Homo sapiens: one gene and its partners. The protein of the gene in region 7 purifies or fractionates together with the protein of the main gene of each other region. This does not show direct contact. Each region holds a gene or a part of one and is shown on either strand. Other genes may lie near its edges. The genes, in order: SRSF11, LUC7L3, SFXN1, SRP54, DNAAF8, DDX46 and SLC28A2.

Region 1 (3,500 bases), on a different chromosome or scaffold from region 7:
CCAATATTTTTATGAATTTATTATAATGACATTCACAATAAATTGAACCCTATTAATGAAATGACTTAAATGTAAAAGAAACTCAATCTCACTTTGATGATAGTCAGTGAATGTAGAATACAATGACTTTATTTCTCTTGTTATGTCCCCAGTTAAGGAATTTCTTATGTGTAGTTCTAGATTTCCTTTCTATATTTACACAATTGAAAATTGGTAGGGAAGAGGAGTGATGAGCAGATAATAGGAAGCGAGCTAGCTTACTAAAATCTGATTCTGTCACAGAAGTGGACTAAAATCAGTGAGTGAATCATGACTTTCTGCATTTGGGGGCCAAATATTGAGTCTGTGAAGAATCAAGGAAAGGAAAGGGGACCCCTCATTTAGAACCTTGTCAAGAGTAAATCAGAGCCAGAGAATGAGAAATTTACCCTCTTTATAGACTGCTTTACAGAAAACACTTCACAGCCTCTTAAGTCTGGCAAGTAAAATAGGCAAAGGAACCTTTAGCTAGCTGAGAATTAGAAGTCTAATTTGGATCTACCAAAAGCTTGGATGATTTGCAATTTATAGTATTTCAGTAAGCTTCAAAATCGTGATTATAAAATGGTTACTTGTGACATTCAAGGGTTGTATGTAAAAGCTGAAAACTAAGGTGAAAAATTATTAGAATAACTTCTGAAAGGGAATAATCTTCCTATTTGATGTGTTTTTTTGTTTGCTTGTTTTTGTTTTTGAGGGGTCTCACTCTGTTGCCGAGGCTGGAGTGCAGTGGTGCAATCACAGCTCACTGCACCGTCCATCTCCAGGCTCAAGCAATCCTCCCAGCTCAGCCTCCCCAAGTACCTGGGACCACAGGCACACACCGCCATGCCCAGCTAATTTTTGTATTTTTTGTAGAGATGAGGCCTCACTATATTGCCCAGGCTGGTCTTGAACTCCTGGACTGAAGTGTTGCTCCCACTTCAGCCTCTCATAGTGCTGTGATTACAGGCATGAGCCACTGCGTCTGGCCCCTATTTAATAACTTCTAAATGCAGGTTCCTTTTCTTTTAAATATAGATAAGAAAGAAGAAAAAAGAAGGCATTCAAGATCAAGATCACGTTCTAGGAGGAGGAGGACTCCCTCATCTTCTAGACACAGGTTAGATTGCTTTTTAGTCAATTATACCTTAGACAAAGATAATTTATATATGTCACATCTTTTTTAATTTGCTGTTAATCTGTTATCCTCTGGTTAAAGTGTTTTAGTAACCTCTGCTGTTAGAATGTGTGAATGACTGTTCACACATGTAAAAAGTAAGAAAAGCGACAGACGAAATAGATGATTTATGCTTTAAAACCCCCAAAAATTCAGAGGTGGTAGGAAAGCATTGGAACTAGAGCAACAAAATGAAAAATAATTGATTCATTGAATTATACAAGTTTCCAAATACTGACTTGTATTTGTTATCTAGTGTCAAAAAGTGACATCTGGTAATATCACCTTAGATCAGATCAGTAAAATGCAAGTACTAGGAATCTGGCATGCTCACAACAATGGAGTCATTTTCCAAAATTTAATTTTCTCAGATTTTTATCATTGGCAACAGATTCATCTATTTTCCTTATATAATAGACTTCATTTATTTTTCAAAAAATTGTCTGCCAAATACCCAAGTCTAATTAATCATAGTTTCTAGATTCTCAAAGGTGATAATGAAAAAGCAGTTAGTTCAGCTCATAACTCAACACAGGTGTCTTCCTTAATACAGCCATTATACTTCATAAGCATCAGAAGTGATTTATGCATACTTTCCATTTCATCACACAGAATATTACTCAAGAGACTAGATTTAATTCTGCTACTATATTAATAGTACTGAAGGGGGATTTAATAAAATTAACTTTACTGCTTCATCAAAGACATCTTTATAAAAGTGGCATTATTTTTTTCTTTTACTGCAAGTGCATACAGAAATGCCAGTGAAGAAGATAGTGAGTGACTCCTAGGGCAGTTCAATAGCCCCTACCTTGATTTGTGTTGAAGAGTCAGTATTTTTACCCACTATGGCTTTTGTGACATTGGTGCAAACGTCAACACAGTGGAAAAGGCAATAATTTGTTATTACTTTGAAAATAATTTTGACCTTATGGACCCCATAAAAGGGTCTTAGAGCATCCACAGTTGTGCAAACGACAATATAAAAGCCATTGCTCTAGGTTATTCACCAACTATTTCAGCCATTCTTCGATTTTCTTAATTTCCAAACTCAATCCTAATTGGCCTAGTTGCATCCTAGTTCTTCTAGTCAGAACCCTTTAGGATTGACATTCAGAACTAGGATATTCCAGTTGTGGTTATTTACTTCAGCCAGTTTCAGCTTCACTTTACATACCCCTCCATCACTGGACTTTTTTTTTTTTTTTTTTTTTTGAGACGGAGTCTCACTCTTGTTGCCCAGCCTGGAGTGCAATGGCACGATCTTGGCTCACCACAACTTCCGCCTCCTGAGTTCAAGCAATTCTGCCTCAGCCTCCCGAATAGCTGGGATTACAGGTGTGTGCCACCATGCCTGGCTGATTTTGTATTTTTAGTAGAGACTGGGTTTTTCCATGTTGGTCAGGCTCATCTCAAACCCGCGACCTCAGGTGATCCACCCACCTTGGCCTCCCAAAGTGCTGGGATTACAGGTGTGAGCCACCATGCCCGGCCATTCACCACTTGACTCTTAAACCTTCACTCCTGGCTTCATCTCTTCTGGAACCTAGTTCTGTCAGTTGTCTGCCTTTTCTTAGTGTCCGTTACCCCTTAGTTTTTACCAAGGGTTAGATAAAACCATTTCTCCTATTTATTGTCAGGATTTTTGAAAGAGCAGTGTGACTTGAATCCTAGACTTTGTCACGTCTCTATTAAAAGCACTTATATCATAAAATATCTAAAAAGTCACATTTCTGTCTCAGAGATGATCTTTTCACTCTGTTTTTATCTTTTAATATCATTTTCTTATTTTAAGTCATTTCTTGAAGTATTACAGGGGTTATCCTGTATGCTATGTCTGTTTATTCCCTGTCACCCACCTTATCCCACTGTCTTATTCTTAGAGTTGTCTTTCAGAAACCCAAATACAGATCATGTCACAGATACTGAGAAGTTCCTTATTGCCTTGATAAGGTGATACATAAAACCTTAGAATGGCTTTCAGGGTTCTTTACTATTCCGTCTGGTTTATCTTTTTACACGTGTCATTTGCCACTCCAAAAGTTACAGGACTAATTGCCTCAACATACCATTTTCTTTATGTCTTCATGTTTCTGCTCATGATCCTTTCTGCCTAATGCTTTTCCACATCTTCCATTTCCGCTTTGAGGAACTCCTTTTTCTTTCTTCAAGATACAATGCTTGCAGTCTTAATCTTCCATGACAGTGCTCTCATAGTTTAGTTTAACCTCTGCAATAGGATATACCTCATGATTACTACAATTTATATGTGTTTCCTTTTACCAAACTCTTAGGAAAAAGG
Region 2 (3,500 bases), on a different chromosome or scaffold from region 7:
TTTTACTGTGATATGCAATTTACTTTAGACACCAACTGCTCATGCAGAGATTATCAAGAGTCACAGGTCATAGGGCATTTTAAGTGGAGCCTGGCAACACTTGAGCTCACTGTAATAGCAACAGGTGGCTACAAAATTATTACAGTATTACAGTATGTACTATAGTTAATTTTATGCAGTTATTACTCAAGCTTTACTTTCTCTGGACTGCTAGTGGCACCATGTACTGTGTGCATAAGTTTTTATAAAGTTTAACTTTTTATGATTCGTATGTATTTTGTGGTAGGAAAATGATAAACTAGTATATACATCTATTTTATGTATTTGTGATGTACTTATCTTTTCTTAAATTTTAAAAATATTTCTAAGCTATGTGATTCGTCTTCAAGTTTTTTCAAATTGTTGCAAATCTCCAAAAAATGTTCCAATATATTTATTGAAAAAACTCCACGTATAAATGGACACACTCAACTCAAACCCGTGTTGTTCAAGGGTCAATTTTACTTTTCCCAATGGTAGGATTTATCATATTCTGTTATGGAAATGCGTTTACATTCAATTGGAATAATCCCCATTGGAAAAAAAAAGTGCATTTACTGTCACCAATACATGATGGCTCTTTAGGACCAAGTGCTGTATCTGTACTATCCTGCTGTTATCTACCTAAGAGCAATACTTTTAATTTTTTTTTTGAAATGGAGTCTTGCTCCTGTCACGCAGGCTGGAATGCAGTGGCGTGATCTCGGCTCACTGCAACCTCCACCTCCCGGGTTCAAGCGATTCTCCTTCCTCAGCCTCCCGAGTAGCTGGGATTACAGGCGTGCGCCACCACACCTGGCTAATTTTTGTATTTTTAGTAGAGACAGGGTTTCGCCATGTTGGCCAGGCTGGTCTCAAACTCCTGAGCTCAGGTGATCCACCCGCCTCAGCCTCGCAAAGTGCTAGGATTACAGGCGTGAGCCACCGCTCCCAGCCGAGCAATACATTTTTGTTGGATAAATGAATACAACAATTTTCCTAACTTACTATAAGAAATGAAGAGAAAGGCTGGGCATGGTGGCTCACCCCTGTAATCCCAGCACTTTGGGAGGCCGAGGGAGGATCACTTGTTGTCAAAAGTTCAAGACCAGCCCGGCAAACATGGTGAAACCCCATCTCTACAACAACACAAAAATTAGTCAGGCATGGTGGCATGCACCTGTAATTCCACCTACTCTGGAGGCTGAGGCAGGAGAATCGCTTGAACCCGGGAGGTGGAGGTTGCAGTGAGCTGAGATCACACCACTGCACTCCAACCTGGGCAACAGAGCAAGACTCCATCTCGGGGGTAAAAAAAAAAAAAAAAAGAGAAAATATTTCATAAAACGAAGAACTGTATTAGCAAAAAAGTCAAATTTACAAACTTAAGCTACCTTCTCCTTTTGTGAGGAAATCAAGGCTAATAACATATATAATGACACACACACACACACACACACACACACACACACAATTTTCCTAAAGCAACCAAAGATTTACGAAATACCTTACTATAATTTTCAGTGATTATGGTATTGTGGTTATTTTATTCTATTTTTTTTTTGAGACAGAGTGTCACTCTGTTGCCCAGGCTGGACTGTGGTGGCACCATCTCGGCTCACTGCAACCTCTGCCTCCTGGGTTGAAAGGATCCTCCTGCCTCAACCTCCAGAGTAGCTGGGATTACAGGAATGCACCACTACGCCCAGCTAATTTTTTTATTTTTTATTAGAGACAGGGTTTCACCATGTTGGCCAGGCTGGTCTCGAACTCCTGGCCTCAAGTGATCTGCCTGCCTTGGCCTCCCAATGTTGAGATTACAGGTGACCCACCATGCCCGGTCGGCTATGTTTTTTTTTTAAAGTCCTTGTATTTTACAGATATACAATGACCGCTTTAAGGTTGACAATAACAGAATTGCTTCAAAATAATGGAAGGGATACAGAGGAAATAATATTGACTATGTGCTAATATTGCTAAATTGGGCATGGGTACATGGGGAGTTCAATTTATTATACTATTCACTCTAATTCTGTATGTTTTGGGAAGAAAAGCAAATAGCAATTACATACACATATAACACATGGACTGCTGGCAATTCTGAGAAGCCAACACTTACTATTTTACTATGGAGTAAGGTAGGAAATGCCAGCCGGGCGCAGTGGCTCACGCCTGTAACCTCAGCACTTTGGGAGACTGAGGCGGACCGATCACTTGAGGTCAGGAGTTCAAGACCAGCCTGGCCAATATGGCAAAACCCTGTCGACTAAAAATACAAAAATTAGCCGGGCGTGGTGGCCCACACCTGCAATCCCAATTACTCGGGACGCTGAGGCCAGGAGGTGGAGGTTGCAGTGAGCCAAGATCATGCCACTACACTCCAGCCTGGGTGACAGAGCTAGACTCTGTCTCAAAAAAAAAAAGGGGGGGGGGCAGGGAGCAGGGTAGAAAATGCTTTTCTATCTTACTCCATAGTAACATAGTAAGTTACTATGAACATTTTGGTGACTCTGAATGAAAACTAGTAAAATACATATTAATAGATGCCATCATGCATTATAATTACTAGTTTTTTGCTTTCAATTTTTGCTCCCAAATTCTGAACATTTTTAAAGCAAAAAGAAAAAGTATACAAGTAAAAAATGTGGACAGAAGCTTTAGCTATTTTTCCTTTTCTAAACAACTTTTCAGTGTCAATGACAGTATCTGCTAACATTCCAAAGATTTTAGAAAAGAACATAGTTCAATTTCCTTCATAAATTATTAAACCTTCATGTTAAACCTTCATGGAAGGAAGGGTAGGCTTGAGTTTGATAAATGGAAGAAAACTCATTTCAGATATTAGAATCAGTGTTAATGATTAAGTAATTTCATTTTCAGGTTGAGATCTAGAATATAAAAACCTCAATTTGAACTACAAAATTTCTGTCTTGCTACATAAAAAATAACAAAACTCCCGATCAGACTTTACAATTTACTACAATCTTCTAATAATATGGCTACTAGTGCCTTCTCTGGCTAACACTGAAATCAAACCCTCACTGAAAGGTACTCACCCTAGGCAGTTAGTTACAATCACATGCTTTCCTCATCACTGTGGTTGTTTAGGATTAACCAAGCAATTGCTTAGTGCAAAAAACCAAAACAATAATCTCAAACAATTGCAAAATACAAATAAACACGGTGGGAGGGTGTACCAATGAATCCATGAAACAGTATTAAAGCCGACTTCACTTTAGCTGCAGTTTCTCAGATCCAGAGGTAGCAATCTACAAAGTTGGAAATGCCTGTAAAAGCACTAGCCCCAGTAAAATACCTTGGTGAAGGTTACATACACACCATTACAAATAAATGGTCGATGATTTTGCATCACAGATGCATCCTTCACTTGAAACTGCGCTTCGCAAGTGCTGCTTGCTCACTTATTACCCATCATGAAAAGGAGAAAAAAGTACAGTATTAGAATCTACTACCAAATTAAT
Region 3 (3,500 bases), on a different chromosome or scaffold from region 7:
ACTTTTTTTTTCAACCATTTGACAGAAAGCTTCTGTCACTTTTAGGCTATTTCCACTGTCACAGTAAAAACAGTTTGTAGCAATTCTTTAAATTATTACATTTGAATTCATTAGATTGAAAACTGTTCTGATTTTCTAAATTTTTGAACAGTAATATCACATCCTCTGCCAGCCAGAAAGTTTTATAATCTTGAAAAGAACTTTACTTTTAGGTTTAAGTAGACAAAAATAAAAATATCAGGAACTTTTTCTTCCTATATTAATAAAACAAAGGGCACAAGGCAGGGAGGATGGTGTAAAGAATCCTGCCTTGGAGTCAGGCAGAAACTGCTTCCGTACAGGCTAGACCAGGGGCCCCAACCCCTGGGCCATGGACTGGTATGGATCTCTGGCCTGTTAGGAATAGGGCTGCCCAGCAGGAGGAGGGCAGTGGGCAAGTGAATGAAGCTTTAGCTGTATTTACAGCTGCTCCCCATTGCTTGCATTACGCCTGAGCTCTGCCTCCTGTCAGGTCAGCGACCGCATTACATTCTCACAGGAGCCTGAACTCCATTGAGAACTGCACATACAAGGGATCTAGGTTGCCCGCTCCTTATGAGAATCTAGTGCCTGATGATCTGTCACTGTCTCCCATCACCCCCAGACGGGACTGTCTAGCTGCAGGAAAACAAGCTCAGGGCTCCCACTGATTCAACATGATGGTGACTTGTCTAATTATTTCATTATATGTTACAATGTAATAATAATAGAACTAAAGTACACAATACATTTAACGTGCTTGAATCATCCTGAAACCATCCCCCTGACCCCTGGTCCATGAAAAAATTGTCTTCCATGAAATGGGTCCCTGGTGCTAAAAAGGTTTGGGACCGCTGGGCTAGACCACTTGCTAGCTGGGTGACCCTGGAGAAGTTACCTAACTTCTCTGAGCCTCAGCTTTCTGTTTTCTTTTTCTATAAAATGGAGGAAATTGGAGACAATACTGCATGTAAAACACTGGGTATGCGGTGGACAGCATTCGTTCATTTGCTGACAACTTTTATCAGGCTAAACTGTCATATCCACTATTTCAATATGTCAATTACTCTTATAAATTGCACTAGGACAGAAAGATTGTATTTCTTCTCTGGGGACTAAATAGTGTTTAAAATAACCAAATCACTAGAAATGGATTTGTCCGTCTGGACTGGCTGAACTCTAAGAGGAGTAAGGCAATTCAAAACAGAAAAGACCACAATCAAAAGCAAACCCAGGGCCGGACATGGTGGTTCACAACTGTATACCTAGCATTCGGGGTGGGTGGATCATTTGAGCCCAGGAGTTCTAGACTAATTGGGCAACATACCAAAACCCTGTTTCTACAAAATATACAAAAATCAGCTGGGTGTGGTGGCGCACGCCTGTAGTCCCAGCTACTGGGGAAGCTGAGGTAGGAGGATCACCTGAGCTCAGGGAAGTTGAGGCTGCAGTGAGCCATGATCACAGCAACTGCACTCCAGCCTGAGGGACAGGGCAATATCCTGTCTCAAAAACAACGACGACAACAACAAACCAAACCCAGGGCAGAAGCTGGAGCCGCAACCTCGATTTCAGCAAATCTGGAAATCAGGGCTCAGTAGGAACACCGGGGTGGGCTCCATAGCCTCCTTTTAGGTTAGTGACAAACGTGCTGGTCCCTGGACTCAGGAGATGCTTTCCCATGTTTCAGGACTGTGGCTGTGCAGCCACCCCTACAGAACACATTAGCCTCAGGCAGGGCACCAAGGCACTCCTGTGTTAAACCAGATAATAGCAGTTTTCCCCCAATTTGCTGGAATGTGAATATCATATTCCTCAAAGTTTTCCTTCATGCACTTTTCAACTTTTGTTGCCTGCTCTTCCTTGCCTGCTGATGAGCAGTCACAGTGACAAAAGGAATTTAAAAACCGCAAAACAGTATCAATGGATGACTTGACAGCAGCTGATGAAGTATACTTCATTGGAGAGCTTCATTTTAATTGCCAAGCGCTGTTTGCATTCAGTTTAGATGATGAAAATTAAACATACTAATTTCTGTTTTTTTTCTGTGAAGAGCACTCTAACTGCCAGGCCCTCTGATTTCTCAGTCTGAGAACTTTCTTTAGGCCCCTGGTCTGAAGGTAGCTCTAAGCAGCCTTAGGGTGGACTAGAGATTCTCAGCAGAACTAAATACAATGTAGACTTTCTATTTTTGGTCATTCTGACCCCAGTCCCTATAGGGAAACCTGAGCAGTTGCTTGGCACACATTTTATCAGTAGCTGCTCTAACCATTCCAATTTGCTCCATCAGTTCCTTCTGGTCAAATTCCCACTGTATGGCCCTGGTCCAGCCCATCACTGCCTCTTGCCTGGATTACTGAGGCAGCCTCCCCGCACAGCCTCCACTGAATATTCTCATTCTCCTTCAGCCTATTCTCAACCCACCACCCAGAGTCACACAGATAAAACCTAAGTCAGACTGTGCTGCTCCTGTATGCAAAACCCTGCCTGGCTTCTTACCTCTCAGACTAAAACCCAGGTGTGAAACGCCAGGGCTGCCATCCACGCTCTGCCGTCTGTGGCCTCCTGACTCCCTTCCTACTGCTCCCCACCCCTCCCACTGTGCCCCAGCTGCACCTGCACCCGTAATGCCTGTAACACACCAGGCAAACTCCTGCCTGTGGTTCCCTCTGCCAGAATATTCATCACCGATACCCACTTGGCTCACTCCCACACCTCCACCCAGTGCTCTTCCCCGGCTGCCCTACCCACACGCCCTAGCCCCATTGCCCCCTTGCCCTCATCACCACTGCACATACTACATACTTTATTTACTTGTTTATTTTCTGCCACCCCCAGTGGAAGGCAATTTCCACTAAGAGGTGTGATATATGTGTTTGTTTTCTGGTTCACGGATCCGTGAACGCTGGTTCAACCTGTATTTATGGAATAAATGACAAAGTCCTGCTAACCCATGCCAGGGGCTGCCATGAGAATCCTGGACACGACAACTTGCGTGATGGCTTGTTTCGCAGCGTTCGCCGACTCCCCCAAGCGGTTCCCATTCTCATCCGTGACGGGAATGCCAACTTTGAGTTCCCTGCAGAGCAAAACACATACAGAGAGCTCCACCAATGCCTTCAATAAACGTCCTGAAATAGTACTATGTTGGGAAAGATCAACCCTCTACTTAATTCAAATACCCACTCAAGTGTCATTTTTGGTACTGACACATCTGTTTTTTTTTTTTTTTTTTTTTTTTTTTTACAGTCTCACTCTGTTGCCCAGGCTGGAGTGTAGTGGTGGCTATCTCCACTGACTGCAACCTCTGCCTCCCGGGTTCAAAGCGATTCTCCTGCCTCAGCCTCCCGAGTAGCTAGAATTACAGGCATGTGACAGTGTGCCGGCCAATTTTTGTATTTTTAGTAGAGACGGGGTTTTGCCATGTTGGCCAGGCTGGTCTTGAACTCCTGACCTCAGGTGATCCACTCGCCTCGGCCTCC
Region 4 (3,500 bases), on a different chromosome or scaffold from region 7:
TTAGTGAGGACAGAATTAAAATCCTATTTTGTCCTAAAGATACATCGTATTTCTTGGAGATTTTTCTATATCCCCACCACTGTACATACCAAGAAGTTTGCTAATAAAAGGCTGTGTTTTGAAAGGTTCAAAGTCATCTATATGTTCCCCTGTACCAATGAAAATAATCGGACTTTTTGTGGCAGCGACTCTGGAAAAAAAAAGAAAATATAAAATAACCTCAAAAGAACCCCACAAATTTCCAGCAGATCTGAAATTCGAAGTGAATCCGCCTCCAAAGCTAATTAGACAAAGGTACAAAACTCAAGTTTCATTTCACAAGTTATAATAGACCTATATCAGACAGGCTCCAAAATTGTTTCTATTTAAACTTTCTTTATAAACCATATTAGGCTCACTATTGAAACATATTTTAAATGATCAATATGAAAGCTATAAACACATATCCTTCCCCATATAATCCCAAGACAGAGGACAACAGTATCAATGATACTTACGCACTGAGTGCACCACCTCCTTTTGCATGGCCATCAAGTTTTGTCACTATTACTGAGGCTACATCTACTTTATCTTTAAAAGCCTTAGCCTGGGCTTCACAAGCCTGCCCAATGGAGGCATCCATCACATAAACAATGTTATCAGGTTGCTAGAAAGTTTAAATAGAAAAGATACTTTAGAAAAGATTTTTATTGATCCTAAGCAAATGTCATCATTAGAAGCTATAAAACAATATTTAGAGCCAGGTGCAGTGGCTCATGCCTGTAATCCCAGCACTTTGGGAGGCCGAGCCAGGTGGATCACCTGAGATAGTTCAAGACCAGCCTGGCCAACATGGTGAAAACCCCGTCTCTACTAAAAATACAAAAATTAGCATACAAAAATTAGCCAGGCATGGTGGCGAGTGCCTGTAATCCCAGCTACTTGAGAGGCTCAGGCAGGAGAATCACTTGAACCCGGGAGGCAGAGGTTGCAGTCAGCTGAGATCATGCCACTGCACTCCAGCCTGGGCGACAAGAGTGAAACTCCATCTCAAAAAAAAAAAAAAAAAAACTACAACATTTACACTATAAATAATTATTCAATCCATAAATATTTGTTGAAGTACTATGTATTATCAGGTACCATCTAGGTCATGAGAACAAAAAGGTAAATGAGAAAATATTTGTCCTAAGAAACTTGCATTCTAGTCAGAGGACATATATAATAAATAGATAAACATTTCAGATGTATAACAACGAAAATGGGATACAGAGTATCAGTTTTGAAGTATGGGAGGCATTTTCTAGTAAGGTAGTCAGGGAAGGCCTCTCTGGACCTAATGTTTGAGCTGAGGCCTGAATAAAGAGGAAAAGGTTATATGCAAAGATTTGAAAGAATGGCAATCTAGGCAAAAAAAGTACAAAGGCAAATCAAAGTAGAAGAGTGTATACTGAAAACGGATAAAATATACTTGAGGCTACTTCCCTTAGATCTGCTCAACTTGGTCAAAATAACAACATAACTGAAAAGAAACTTATTAGCATTAACCACAAACCAAAGAATTACTGCTAACACTCCAATGTCAAGACGTGGGTTCCTAATAATATATGCTGCAGATATCTATAAACTGCTTCTCCTCCCCCAAATTGTTTCCATCACACTTTTAAAGAGACACAAAATGATAATTAATATTTTTTAAAGTATTTAAAAATCTAAGTATTTCCAACTGAATTTTTAAAAAGGAAATTCAACAGAAACTAAAGGCTAATTACTAATTTTTTTTTTTTTTTTTTTTGGAGATGGAGTTTTGCTCTTGTTGCCCAGGCTGGAGTGCAATGGCGTGATCTTGGCTCACTGCAACCTCTGCCTCCCGGGTTCAAGCTATTCTCCTGCCTCAGCTCCCAGGTAGCTGGGATTACAGGCACCCACCACCATGCCCAGATAATTTTTGTATTTTTAGTAGAGACGGAGTTTCACCATGTTGGCCAGGCTGATCTTGAACTCCTGACCTTGTGATCCATCCGCCCTGGCCTCCCAAAGTGCTGGGATTATAGATGTGAGCCACCATACCCGGCCTAATTACTAATTTTTAAATGTTTTCTTATGCATACTAATAGGATGACTGAGAAAGGAAATTACTTTTTCATACTTATGAAAATTTTATATTTAATGGAGAACAAAAATAATGAAATTAAGTCCCTACCACATAGATATAGGTGCCCAAAACAAAAATAAATTACTGGGGATCTGCCTCACAGGCAAAGAATAATTTATATTGGTCATATACTCAACCTGGTTTTATAATTAAATTAACCAAAGTCCTAATAATAGTGTTACATTGAAAGCTACTTACTATAGCATTAGCAACTTGAAGCATTTCTTCAAACAAAGAGTCTTCTTGTTTGTGGCGGCCACTTGTATCAACAATAATAATTTCAAAATTTTCATTTTTAAATTTCTCTACTCCTTCAGAAGCAATGATGACAGGATCCATTTCTGTATAGCTATATAACATGGACAAATGATTTAACAAAACGACAAAACTTCCAAATACTACTAATTCGGAAAGTTAATTTACCTATAATCTATTTTGAAAAAGCCAAAATGACCCCAATTTCAATTTAGAAGAGGAAAATCTATAAAGTATTAAATACAGAATCTACTTCTAAAAAAGCATGAAGCATTATCCAATTTTCCAATTCCAAAACCCAGTATGATTCTACTGCATGTCTTTTTTGAATGAATTGTGTCTCCTTCAAATTTATTTTTTATATCTTCTTTAATAATTGAACTCATGCTCACAGTGTTTCACACATTTTTCCATTTAACATCCATTTGGAAGCATTTTATAAAACCAGTAGATATTCTTGTAACAAGCCTGAGCAATATAGTGAGATTCCATCTCTACAAAAAAAAAAAACTAGCTGGCATAGTGGAATATGCCTATAGTCCCAGCCACTTGGGAGACTGAGGCAGGAGGACCACTTGAGTCCATGAGTTCGACACTGCAGTGAGCTTATGATCATGCAACTGCACTCCAACTTGGGCAACAGAGCAAGACCATGGCATGTCTCTTTAAAAATTAACACGGGTGAAAAAAGAAAAAATATTTCTGTAACACATAACCTTGAGGTTATACAGCATTCTATCAGATGGCTGTATCATTTATTAAATAACGCCCTACTATTAGACATTTGACGTTTTTCCAATTTTTTTTTTAATTTTTATGTATTTATTTATTTATTTTTGAGACAAAGTTTCACTCTGTTGCCCAGGCTGGAGTGCAGTGGTGCGATCTCGGCTCACTGCCACTTCTGCCTCCTGGGTTCAAGGGATTCTCGTGCCTCAGCCTCCCAAGTGGCTAGGATTACAGGCGCCTGCCACCAGGCCTGGCTAATTTTTGTATTTTCAGTAAAGACGGGGTTTCACCATGTTGGTCAGGATGGTCTCAAACTTCTGACCTCATGATATGCCCGCCTTGGCCTCCCAAAATGCTGGGATCACATGCATGAGCCATCATG
Region 5 (2,680 bases), on a different chromosome or scaffold from region 7:
CCAGGTGCCTGCGTGTGCTGTGATGTTATCTCATGCAGTCCAGTGAGGGGGGACTCCCATTAGTCTCCTTTTTTTGTTTTGTTTTGAGACACAGTCTCACTTCATTACCCAGGCTGGAGTGCAAGGCACGATCTTGGCTCACCACAACCTCCACCTCCCAGGTTCAAGTGATTCTCCTGCCTCAGCCTCCTGAGTAGCTGGGATTACAGGTGCGCACCACTACGCCTGGCTAATTTTTGTATTTTTAGTAGAGATGGGGTTTCTCCATGTTGGTCAGGCTGGTCTTGAACTCCCGACCTTGTGATCCACCCACCTCGGCCTCCCAAAGTGCTGGGATTACAGGCGTGAGCCACCGCGCCCGGCCATGATTCTCCTTCTGTGGGTGGAGGAACTGGGCACTGGGAGCGTGAAAACCTTGCCCAGGTGGCAGAGCCAGCTTTGGACGCAGGTCTGACTTCCTACCTCACTCCCCTTGCCTTGACAGACACAGTAATTCAGAGTTGAACTTGGAACAGAGTTTATTTTCCATCACTGTAAAACATTCTCAGTGAGGTTACTGGCATTAAAAAGGTGGGAGAAATGGAAGAAAATGGGGTTGAAGAAAAAAAAAGCCTTTGCTCTTGACAGCTAGGCAGCCACAGCGGAGGCCGCCAGGCTGCGAGGGCAGCGTATGGGGGCAGAGCCCGGTTCTGGCGGCACAGGCCCCGGAGTGGAGGGGGCAGGGGAGGGTCTCTGTAGGTGGGAGAGGGCCTGGGGGCTGGGAGGCAGCCTGGCCTTGTGCCCTACAGGAGGGACCTCCTGGGACTTTATGGAAGCCTGTCTTGCCTTTGACTTGCAATGAAAATGCCCCTCATCATTGGGAGTGGGGTCGGGTGGGGGTCCCCAGTGGCCAGATCACGTGGGGTCCAGAGAGCAGACATCTGTAGCCCTGATCTTGGCGGCCAGTGACCACGGCCAAGCAGGGCCTGTCTTTTGCCTGGTACAAGGCTTGATGAGAAGAGACCCCTGCCCATCCTCAGTGGCCTGGCAGCCAGGGGTGAACCCCAGGGGAAGCTGGGACACTGTCCCAAAGGCCCGGCGCCCTACTGTGCTGCCTGAGCCCGTGGCACCGTGGGGCCCAAGGTGGTGATGATTTCTCTGCTCTTCCCACGGGGCAGACAGCAGGACACATCCTGGAGACAAGGTTGGGGAGACAAACAGGTGCCCAGGTCAGGGCTGATCACAGCAGTTACAAAAGCATCCCGTGAAGACGGGGCTGCAAGACGGTGCTGGCAAAGGAACAGGACCCAGGAAGACCAGGCTTGTCCTGTGGAGGGGCCGGGTCTTGGCAGGGGGCAAGCAGATGTCCCCAGTTTTTGCTGGTGATCAACAAGTGAGGCCGCTGCTCCATTCTACACAGGACAGCATTTCCAGGGGTTTCCAGTATTCTGTCTAGATTCATAAAGGTCAAAGGCCTTGAGAATCTATGTGTGCCTTTCTATCTTAGGTAAAGAAGAGAAAGAGAAAGCAAATTCTCGTTACTCCTCTTTCAAAAAGTTCATTAAAAGCCAGGCTGGCAGCTCACAGTGCTATAATCCCAGCACTGTGGAAGGCCTAGGCAGGAGGATTGAGAGGAGTTCCAGACCAACCTGGGCAACACCGTGAGACCCCATCTCTACAAAAAAAAAAAAAAAAAAAATTAGCTGGACATGGTGGTGTGCACCTGTAGTCCCAGCTGCTGCGTCTCGAAAAGAGAAAAAACCACGTGTATTAGATCTGTGTGGGTAGGCATGTGTGTGTCGTGTGTTAATTTAGGTGCCCAAAATAGCAAGTATGCAGGAAGCCAGAAAATAAGGCTTAGGTCTCTTTCAACCCTAAAATCCTCTAAATACGTTTTACTTGGTTTTTAAAAAGACCTTATTGATGGAAATAATAGATGCCTGTTTAAAAAAATGCAGAACTGGAGAAAGATGAAGAGCCTCAGAGTCCCGCAGAGAGCAGCACCCCGTCCTCCTGCTGTCCCTGCCCATCTCCCTCAGAGGACCAGGCCCCTTTATCCCAAAGCTGTTGTCACAGGTTACATACAGATTTGTATCTGCATCCTTCCTCTAAGTTCATGCACCTGTGACTGAGCTCTAACAGGGTGGGCAACAGTCCAAAGTCTGAGGGTCCCTGCCTCTGGAATGCCCCTGCTAGTGGAAATGCAGGAACAACAAGGGGACACCGGGGCCCAGGGTCCATGGCAAGTCAGCCCGCCCCTGCCCACTCCTGGGATCCCACTACCTGAGGCAGCTATAGTTGCTCCAGAGGAGGCATCAGGGCCTCCCTGGCTGCCCCTGGCTCAGGAACATCCCCCAGGGCTCTGGGCCTGCCTCTTGGGAGTCGAGCCTGGGCGCTCTGCCCCTTGGCACAGAGCTTCATGTGTTGCTTCCTCCCAGTTCGTGATCCAGCTGTGTCTTCAGGGGCCTGAGCCCTCCCACCCGCGGGCCCCTTGCTGGCAGGCAGCTCGGGCTGGGCTGTCCCCTTCTGAAAGGCCCTGAGCTGCTGGAGAAGCTGGCTTTTCCCGGTACAGGTCCTGTGACACAATGAGACCAAATTCACTCAACCCCGTGGGGGCCGCCCCTCCCAGCCCTCCTTACTGAAACAGGAGAAAAGCAGATGAGCCCAGCTCCCATTTCAGAGCAAGAATGCAATTCAGGCA
Region 6 (3,422 bases), on a different chromosome or scaffold from region 7:
CTCCCGGGTTCAAGCGATTCGCCTGCCTCAGCCTCCCGAGTAGCTGGGATTACAGGCATGTGCCACCACACCTGGCTAATTTTGTATTTTTAGTAGAGACTGGGTCTCTCCGTGTTGGTCAGACTGGTCCTGAGCTCCTGACCCCAGGTGATCTGCCTGCCTCAGCCTCCCAAAGTGCTGGGATTACAGGCATGAGCCACCGCACCCAGCCTACATATCCATTTTGTAAGAGTGTCACTGTGGCAAAACCCCAACTGGTAAATGAACCTATTATTTCACCTATGTTTCTCTTATGCTAAATACAATGAACATAAAAGACTTAAGAGCCTTCTTCAGGAAGACATTTTTGGAACAGAATTATAAATATTTTGGGTAATAAGTTGCTAGAATTTTTTAAATAAAAATAGAGAGTATAATACTTCTCTCACCAACATAAACAAAATTAGAGAAACAGAAGAAAGAAAAAGCATTGAGGAAAGATAATTTTAAGAAAGTGCAGATTGAATTCGAATTAATTTTATTTTATAAGGAATTTAGAAAACATGAGCAAATATTCATATTGCATTAAAAAAACAAAGTCTATATATCATTCAAATTTTAAAAGTCAGTGTGACACTAAAAAATGTACTAACAAAGTAATATGTTTCATTTTAGAACAAAATTTTATCAGTGGCTCATCACAACTGATATACAAACAAAATGCTAAAATGATGTAAAACTGAATCTCAAAGTGATCCAGTTGGATGAAGGGAGCACCAATTATCATCGATGTGGGACTGCCATATACTCTACCAAAGAAAACAAACTACCATTAGGTGATAAAGATGAGCAAATAAATAAACTAGAGGGAGGGAATGAGCCCACAATTTCTGAAATTTTACAGTAAGTGGTTTATTTGTTTCTGTTGTTACATGTCTTTTGTCTGTTTTCTTCCTTCAAGAAATTAAGTGGATGTGTGAAGGATCCAAGAATATTTCCCAGGTATATCTTACTTTTTCAGGAAGAATAACTTTATACTGAAGAAATAATGATTAATACTCCCTATCACTTCAGCCACTGAATATACTATTAAAATTATTTGTTTTTACAACTATAGTATGCTTTTATTTATTTATTTTTAAACTGTAAGTCAATAATATTTAAAGAATGAAAGTCTCTTCATTTAAGAAATATACAGTCATCCTTTGGTATGAGAGGGGGACTGATTGCAGGACACCCCTTAAACCCCTCCTCTATACCAAAATCCATGGATGTTCAAGCCTCTTATATGAAATGGCTTGCTATATGCATATAACCGATGCACATCCTCCTGTATACTTTAACCGCCTGTATACTGTAACCTTTAAATTACTTAAAATACCTAACACAATGTAAATGTTATAGTAAAACTTTTACAGCTGTTAAACTGTATTTTTAAAATTTTACATTCTTTTTTTCTTTTTTTTTTTTTTTCTATTTTTGATCTGTGGTTGGTTTAATCTGTGGGTTTGAAACCCTTGGATATAAAAGACTGACTTTATTTAACTCCTGAAAAAAATTCCTTTTTTGAAAAGTGACAATAACATGAAGTTAATACATCAGGAGTCTTGAAAAGAATATTAGGTAATCCAATTATAACAATTTAAATTAGAATATTCAGGAACTGTATCTTGAAGGCTCAAAAATACTATTTATTTATTTATTTATTTATTTTTGAGATAGTCTCACTCTGTCGCCCAGGCTGGAGTGCAATGGTGTTATCTTGGCTCAGATTCTTCTGCCTCAGCCTCCTGAGTAGCTGGGATTACAGCCACCCACCACCATGCCGACTAATTTTTGTATTTTTAGTAGAGACAGGGTTTCACCATGTTGACCAGGCTAGTCTTGAACTCCTGACCTCAAGTGATCTGCCCACCTCGGCCTCCCAAATTGCTGGGATACAGGTGTGAGTCACTGCGCCCAGCCTCAAAAACACAATTTATGATTCCTTGTGAATTAAATTTCACTAAGATGAAGCACATCTAAGTTTAAAACTTGGGTACCATTATGTTTTACAATTTTTAAGAAAGAAAATTCACAACCTACTCAATAATCCTGAAGAAAAATCAGATTAAAAGTAGTAGGATATTTGTACATACAACATGTATAGATATATAAATAAACACTTTCTAGAAGGAAAAGGTATCATATTTAGTATTTATAGGCTACACTCTTTCTTTTAAGGAAGATTATAAAAGAGGGGCTAGGTATGGAGCCAGAAGTTGTGAGGGAAACCTCAAAGTAGTAAATACTATAACTCTTTGTAGAGTTTTACACTCAGTGTAAAGAAATGCAAAAAAATCCTTATACTATTAAATCTTTACTTGTATAAAAACCGAAATTAGTCCAACTACTTTTTGCCCATTTATGATGATAAAAATTGAAACAAAAACTCTCAACCCATTTTGTAAGACTTCTATTATAACATTCTTAAATCCAGTTCATATTGTTCCAGAGTCATGTAACATCAAGGTGGGGACACAAAATATGATAGTGAATTTTACCTTTTCTTAGGAAATGATCACAATTTCATTGAAAGTACAGGATAAAGTGAATAGCCCCTTAACGACTTGTGTACTTTATTGTCTTCAATAGAAAGTTCAAATATTTCCATTTTTTAAACCTCTAGAATATTATCCGGACATTTAAAATATTGATATTTGAGTTTACATTAAAGGACATCATACTCTGAAAACAGGCTGGCTTTAAATATAGTTTGACTGATTGTGGGGGTACTTACGGACAGATTTCTTTACCAAGTACCAGTTTCTTATATTTAAAAAAAATCAGCAAGATAGAATTTAAAAAATCTTCATTTACAATACATTGTAAACTGCAGACAGCAACTGCCACATACATCATAGACCAGCACAGGTAAAAATCTTTTTTCCGGATGTCTATAAGACTTTGTATCTTCCTTTATTTGTTGGTTGGTATGAATTTTGCTGTAATAGGAAATAAAAGATATGTCATCAGAGAAAGCAAAACAAAAAAAACAAAAAAAAAAAACGAACCAACCAACCAACCAAACAAACCCAAAAGGAAATATTTAAGATCATTTCCTTTGCCAACTTATAAAACTATTGGTTATTTAAAATTTTAAATGTTACTATTACTGCATTGAGAAAGGAAAAACTATTCAATAACTAATGAATTCTCTGTTCACTCAACTATTCCTTAACAACTATGTTTTGAATCAACCTAATGGTGGTAGCATCTATGGGCACAAGATTCTTTTCGACCACTCCTTGGTGAAATAGTATTAAGCACATGATTTAACAGCTGTTTTACTTTTTCCCTCTTGTTTTGTGAACCCACTTTTCATTAAACTTCTAACCACCCCCACCCCCCAACAAAAAAAGGAATGCTCTGTGAGGGGAATTTTAGAAAAGCTCTCAGAATTA
Region 7 (4,289 bases):
ATCCTCTCACCTCAGCCTCACGAAGTGCTGGGATTACAGGCATGAGCCACTAGCCCGGTGGAGAGTCAATTCTTAAACATTTACTAGCATACCACTGTTCAAATATAGACACAAGCAATGTGACTCACATGATTAACGGCCACACTGCTAAGTAAAATATGAAATATCATGTAAGCATGAAAAACTTACAAAGAATTTACTGTCAATTCAGTATATATAAAACATGATAATATAAAAATTTTTAGAGAGAAGCAAATTGTGAATAAAACAATTAAAAATTTTAAGAAGTCACTGAGGTAACTTTCAAAAATAAAGAGAAGAAAATATAAAAATAACCTTTTGTTTGGAAGCTGCTCTGAATCATCTCCATATATAGTCATGTGTTACTTAACAACAGGGATACATTCTGATAAATTCAACATTAGTCAATTTCATAATTATGCTAACATCTTACAGTGTACTTATGCAAACCTAGATGGTATAGCTTACGACACATCCAAGCTATATGGTGGATCCTATTATTCTTAGGCTGCAAATCTGTTCAGCATGTTTCTGTACTTAATACTGTAGGCAACTATAGCACAATGGTAAGTATTTGTGTATCTAAACATATCTAAACATAGAAAAGGCACAGTAAAAATACAGTATTATAATTTTATGGGACCACCGTTGTGTAATGATATACACCGTTGATATACATGATTATACACCATTGTATAATGCGGTCCATCATTGACTGAAACATCATTATGTAGCTCATGACCGTATTCCCTTTAGAAGCTATCCAATGTCCTCTTCTCAGCTTTTAGTGTATGACTTCTGCACTCTTTTATAAATACCCACTGTTTTCCAGACCATGGAACATTGCTTCTTTCCATATGATCTATTTTACTCAAACAATTTTCTTTGACATTACTTCTGGGACCAGATCCACAAACAAATTCAAAGATTTTTCTCACTCCTCCTTCCTAGACCCCTGTTCACATAGCACTGTGGACTGTACCTTCTTCATTCTTGAGACTCTTCTCTTTTGACTTCTAAGATCTTTTTTACTGTCTTTATTATCCTTATAATAAGTCCTTCTGTGTTTTCTCCCCAGGTTTCCCTTCCTCTCCACCATTCCCAAATCTGAGTATTCCAGAAGAGCTACTGTTTTTTTAATGATATGGTAAATTAATTTCTAAAGGGATTAAAATGAATACCTACCTGTTGTAATGAAAATAAATGTATAACATAAAGCAATCTGCAAAATAGTAAGTATACACTCAAAATCTGTTAGCCATTATTACCATTGTTATTATTTTTATTTTCAGTCCAACCAACACTGATACTGCTGAACTCCTTTTTTTTTATGGAGTTTATGGCACATGTTTAAGTTAATTAATTATGTAAGATACATATATATATGTACACATGGTAAGGTGGAGCGGTTGTGATAATACCACAAGCTGCCTGAAGGGGCAGCCCACCCTAGATCCTTTCCTAACTGAACAAGATTCCAAAACACCAGTACCTCTGGTAAGTGGAAGGGCCCAGTCCATCCCCCAGGCTGTGTCCTTGTGCGTCAGTCCTCTTGCTTCCCTCAGGCTCTACTTCTTTTTCCTACAAGCACAGAGAGCATTGGGATCAGTCATGGAGCCCTGCCAGGGATGATGGGGATTGAGAGCAGCCAAATACCCTACAGGAGCCCATGCAGCAGCCCACAGCTCTGCAGAGAGAAACTAAACTGGTGATTACCATGAGCTCCAGCCCCGGGTTCACTGTGCCAGTCTCCACTGTGGACAGAGCAATGGACTGTCTTCCACTTGCTTTCTCCATCTCCTGTTCTCCTCAACTGAAAAACAAATTCAGGGCCAAGCCTGAAAGATTGGTCATTCTGTTCTGTGGGGATGGGGAGAATTTTTAGGACCAGTTACCCATGGAAAACGCAAAACTAAAAGTCTTTGAAGGCTTAGTTGATTTCTTTAAGAACTGAGAATTGAGAAGATTGGATGTGTAATTTTTATATAATAAATAATGAAAAATAAAATCCTATTTCCTCTTGTGAATAGCTAAAGAAGAGGCAGTAAGATAGGAGAAGAGAAATGAAAGGCAGTGGAATTGAAATGAATCAGTGGGCCGCCCAGGGCCCCAGGATCTGGGCTATAAAGGTTCCTACTTGGACCCTCAAAGAAAGAGTCACAGGGTAACTACTCCTTTTAGCCCCAGGGAGGCCCCACTGAGCTTGCTGAGTAAGAAGGAAACAGGGAGGAAGGCAGTTGGGAAGACCCGGACCCTAAAGTATTGCTGAACAGATAACAATTTACAGGCCTTCAAATTCCTGACTATAATGTAGCATAAGAATTGGTTTTTTATGCCCCAGAGAGAACTCATCAGTGAAATTAACAAAACTTACATTTAAAATAATTAGTATGAATGTTAATGATCCCAAGTAAAGTTTTTAAACAAAATAAGCAAACATTTGGGCCTCAGAATAAGCAAATTTAATACATGGACATTCACAATTAGAATATAAGTTCATTCTGAGATATTTATTTACTTTGCAGAAAATTCCCTTCCCCATGGAATTGCTTTTGAAAATGTGATCTCTTCAAGCATTTGAAGTATAATTTCATTAAACACACATAACCAACTTATATTGTGTAAATTAGGGCCTTCCTGACTAGGCACAAAACTACCTGCATTTAGTTTAAATATGATCTCTTTAAAAATTTGTAAATTAGGCACCTGCCCTCCCCCAAACACCTTTACTTACCCCAGCTTGTGGAATTGATTCCCTCTGGCTCCTCAGTGAAGGACTGAAAGAAAAGCTCAGCTGCGAGGGAGGAGGGGCAGCTTGGGTGGGGCATGGGGGCTTTCCTGCCATTGGTTAGTTTTATGTCTTGGGCCCTCCTTCGCTGAGCCTGCCCTCAATGTAGAGGAGGACTGCACCTCTCAAGTTAAATATTATATGTTTTTAAGACTGTTTTGCAGGCCTAAGACTTATGCAGAGGTGGCGCCCGCCCGTAATCCCAGCACTTCGGGAGGCCGAGACGGGCGGATCGCTTGAGACCAGCCAGGATAACATGGCGAAACCACATCTCTACAACAAATACAAAAATTAGCTGGGCGCGGTGGCACACGACTGTGGTTCCAGTTACTCGGCAGGCGGAGGTGGAAGGATCCCTTGAGCCTCTGGAGGTGGAGGTTGCAGTGAGCTGTGATTGCGCCACTGCACTCCAGCCTGGGCGACAGAGTGAGACCCTGTCAGAAAACAAAACAAAACAAAAGAATTCTGTAAGAACTTCTAACAGGTACATTCCTGTAAGCATTACCCACCACTGGACTAGGCACTGGGTAGCCTGTAAAATACAGTAAGAGCCGTCTCTGCACCCAGAAAATTTACCATCATTTTGTGCTGGAAAGACATGCCCTAGAAAACAATAAACAGCACGACTGTACATGATTCCATGCCAAATGACTGCTAGGAATTATTTTATTAATCCATTCAACAAATACTTATTGAGTAACCACTATTAGCCAGCCACCGTTTTCCGTGTGAGGACATAAAAATGAGTGAGACAAGGTCTCTGCCATCAAAAAACGAACAGATCAGTGAGGAAAGACGGATGTGTCAAGAAAGGCTTTGCAGGTCGAGCGCGGTGAATCACGCTTGTAATCCCAGCACACTGGGAGGCAGAGGCAGGCGGATCATTTGAGGTCAGGCGCTCGAGACCACCCTGGCCAACATGGCGAAACTCCATCTCTACTAAAAATACAAAAATTATCCGGGCATGGTGGTGCAGGCTTGTAATCTCAGCTACTCAGGAGGCTGAGGCAGGAGAATCATTTGAACCCAGGAGGCAGAGGTTGCAGTGAGCCATGATCATGCCACTGCACTCCAGCCTGGGTGAGCGAGACTCCATCTCAAAAAAAAAAAAAAAAAAAAAAAAGAGGGAGAGAAAGACTTTACAGAGCTGGTAACACTTATCCTGGCCTGGAAAGAAAGAAAGAAAGCTTCCTATGACGCCCTCTGGATAAAACTTAGGACCCCTCCCTGCACTCTGATTGCACCATGTTGTTGCTGAACCCTATAGAGCACATACCATCGCCTACTAGACAGTGATCTCCTCAAGCACAAGCTCTCTGTCTTTTTTTTTTTTTTTTCCTTAGACAAGGTCTTGCTCTGTCACCCAGACTAGAGTGCAATGGCACTATCATGGCTCATTGCAGCCTCTAACTTCTGGGCTCAGGTGATCCTCCCATCTCAGCCTCTGGAGTAGCTGGGACCACAGGCGTGTACCACCACA

The links.
Region 1: the proteins of SLC28A2 (region 7) and SRSF11 purify together in Homo sapiens (affinity purification with mass spectrometry; one large-scale study listed by BioGRID and IntAct). This does not show direct contact.
Region 2: the proteins of SLC28A2 (region 7) and LUC7L3 purify together in Homo sapiens (affinity purification with mass spectrometry; one large-scale study listed by BioGRID and IntAct). This does not show direct contact.
Region 3: the proteins of SLC28A2 (region 7) and SFXN1 purify together in Homo sapiens (affinity purification with mass spectrometry; one large-scale study listed by BioGRID and IntAct). This does not show direct contact.
Region 4: the proteins of SLC28A2 (region 7) and SRP54 purify together in Homo sapiens (affinity purification with mass spectrometry; one large-scale study listed by BioGRID and IntAct). This does not show direct contact.
Region 5: the proteins of SLC28A2 (region 7) and DNAAF8 purify together in Homo sapiens (affinity purification with mass spectrometry; one large-scale study listed by BioGRID and IntAct). This does not show direct contact.
Region 6: the proteins of SLC28A2 (region 7) and DDX46 purify together in Homo sapiens (affinity purification with mass spectrometry; one large-scale study listed by BioGRID and IntAct). This does not show direct contact.

What each region holds. Positions count from the first base shown.
Region 1 is NC_000001.11:70,238,380-70,241,879, forward strand, and holds part of SRSF11 (serine/arginine-rich splicing factor 11), read left to right. Parts: intron 1-1,059; coding exon 1,060-1,141; intron 1,142-3,500. UniProt on the Homo sapiens protein: May function in pre-mRNA splicing.
Region 2 is NC_000017.11:50,722,603-50,726,102, reverse strand, and holds part of LUC7L3 (luc7-like protein 3), read right to left. Parts: intron 1-3,500. UniProt on the Homo sapiens protein: Binds cAMP regulatory element DNA sequence. May play a role in RNA splicing.
Region 3 is NC_000005.10:175,513,060-175,516,559, reverse strand, and holds part of SFXN1 (sideroflexin-1), read right to left. Parts: intron 3,098-3,500; coding exon 2,970-3,097; coding exon of another isoform or gene 2,965-2,969; exon of another isoform or gene 2,824-2,964; intron 1-2,823. UniProt on the Homo sapiens protein: Amino acid transporter importing serine, an essential substrate of the mitochondrial branch of the one-carbon pathway, into mitochondria.
Region 4 is NC_000014.9:35,010,492-35,013,991, reverse strand, and holds part of SRP54 (signal recognition particle subunit SRP54), read right to left. Parts: intron 2,484-3,500; coding exon 2,333-2,483; intron 647-2,332; coding exon 498-646; intron 191-497; coding exon 90-190; intron 1-89. UniProt on the Homo sapiens protein: Component of the signal recognition particle (SRP) complex, a ribonucleoprotein complex that mediates the cotranslational targeting of secretory and membrane proteins to the endoplasmic reticulum (ER).
Region 5 is NC_000016.10:4,747,217-4,749,896, reverse strand, and holds the end of DNAAF8 (dynein axonemal assembly factor 8), read right to left. Parts: intron 2,555-2,680; coding exon 2,272-2,554; 3' UTR 2,263-2,271; intron 1,659-2,262; exon of another isoform or gene 1,173-1,658; 3' UTR 501-1,172; downstream 1-500. UniProt on the Homo sapiens protein: In cyliated cells, dynein axonemal particle-specific protein required for deployment of ODA to the axoneme. Interacts with outer dynein arm (ODA) subunits.
Region 6 is NC_000005.10:134,828,200-134,831,621, reverse strand, and holds the end of DDX46 (probable ATP-dependent RNA helicase DDX46), read right to left. Parts: intron 2,964-3,422; coding exon 2,916-2,963; 3' UTR 501-2,915; downstream 1-500. UniProt on the Homo sapiens protein: Component of the 17S U2 SnRNP complex of the spliceosome, a large ribonucleoprotein complex that removes introns from transcribed pre-mRNAs.
Region 7 is NC_000015.10:45,250,745-45,255,033, reverse strand, and holds the start of SLC28A2 (sodium/nucleoside cotransporter 2), read right to left. Parts: upstream 2,801-4,289; 5' UTR 2,756-2,800; intron 1,835-2,755; 5' UTR 1,819-1,834; coding exon 1,738-1,818; intron 1,603-1,737; coding exon 1,514-1,602; intron 1,169-1,513; exon of another isoform or gene 1,100-1,168; intron 1-1,099.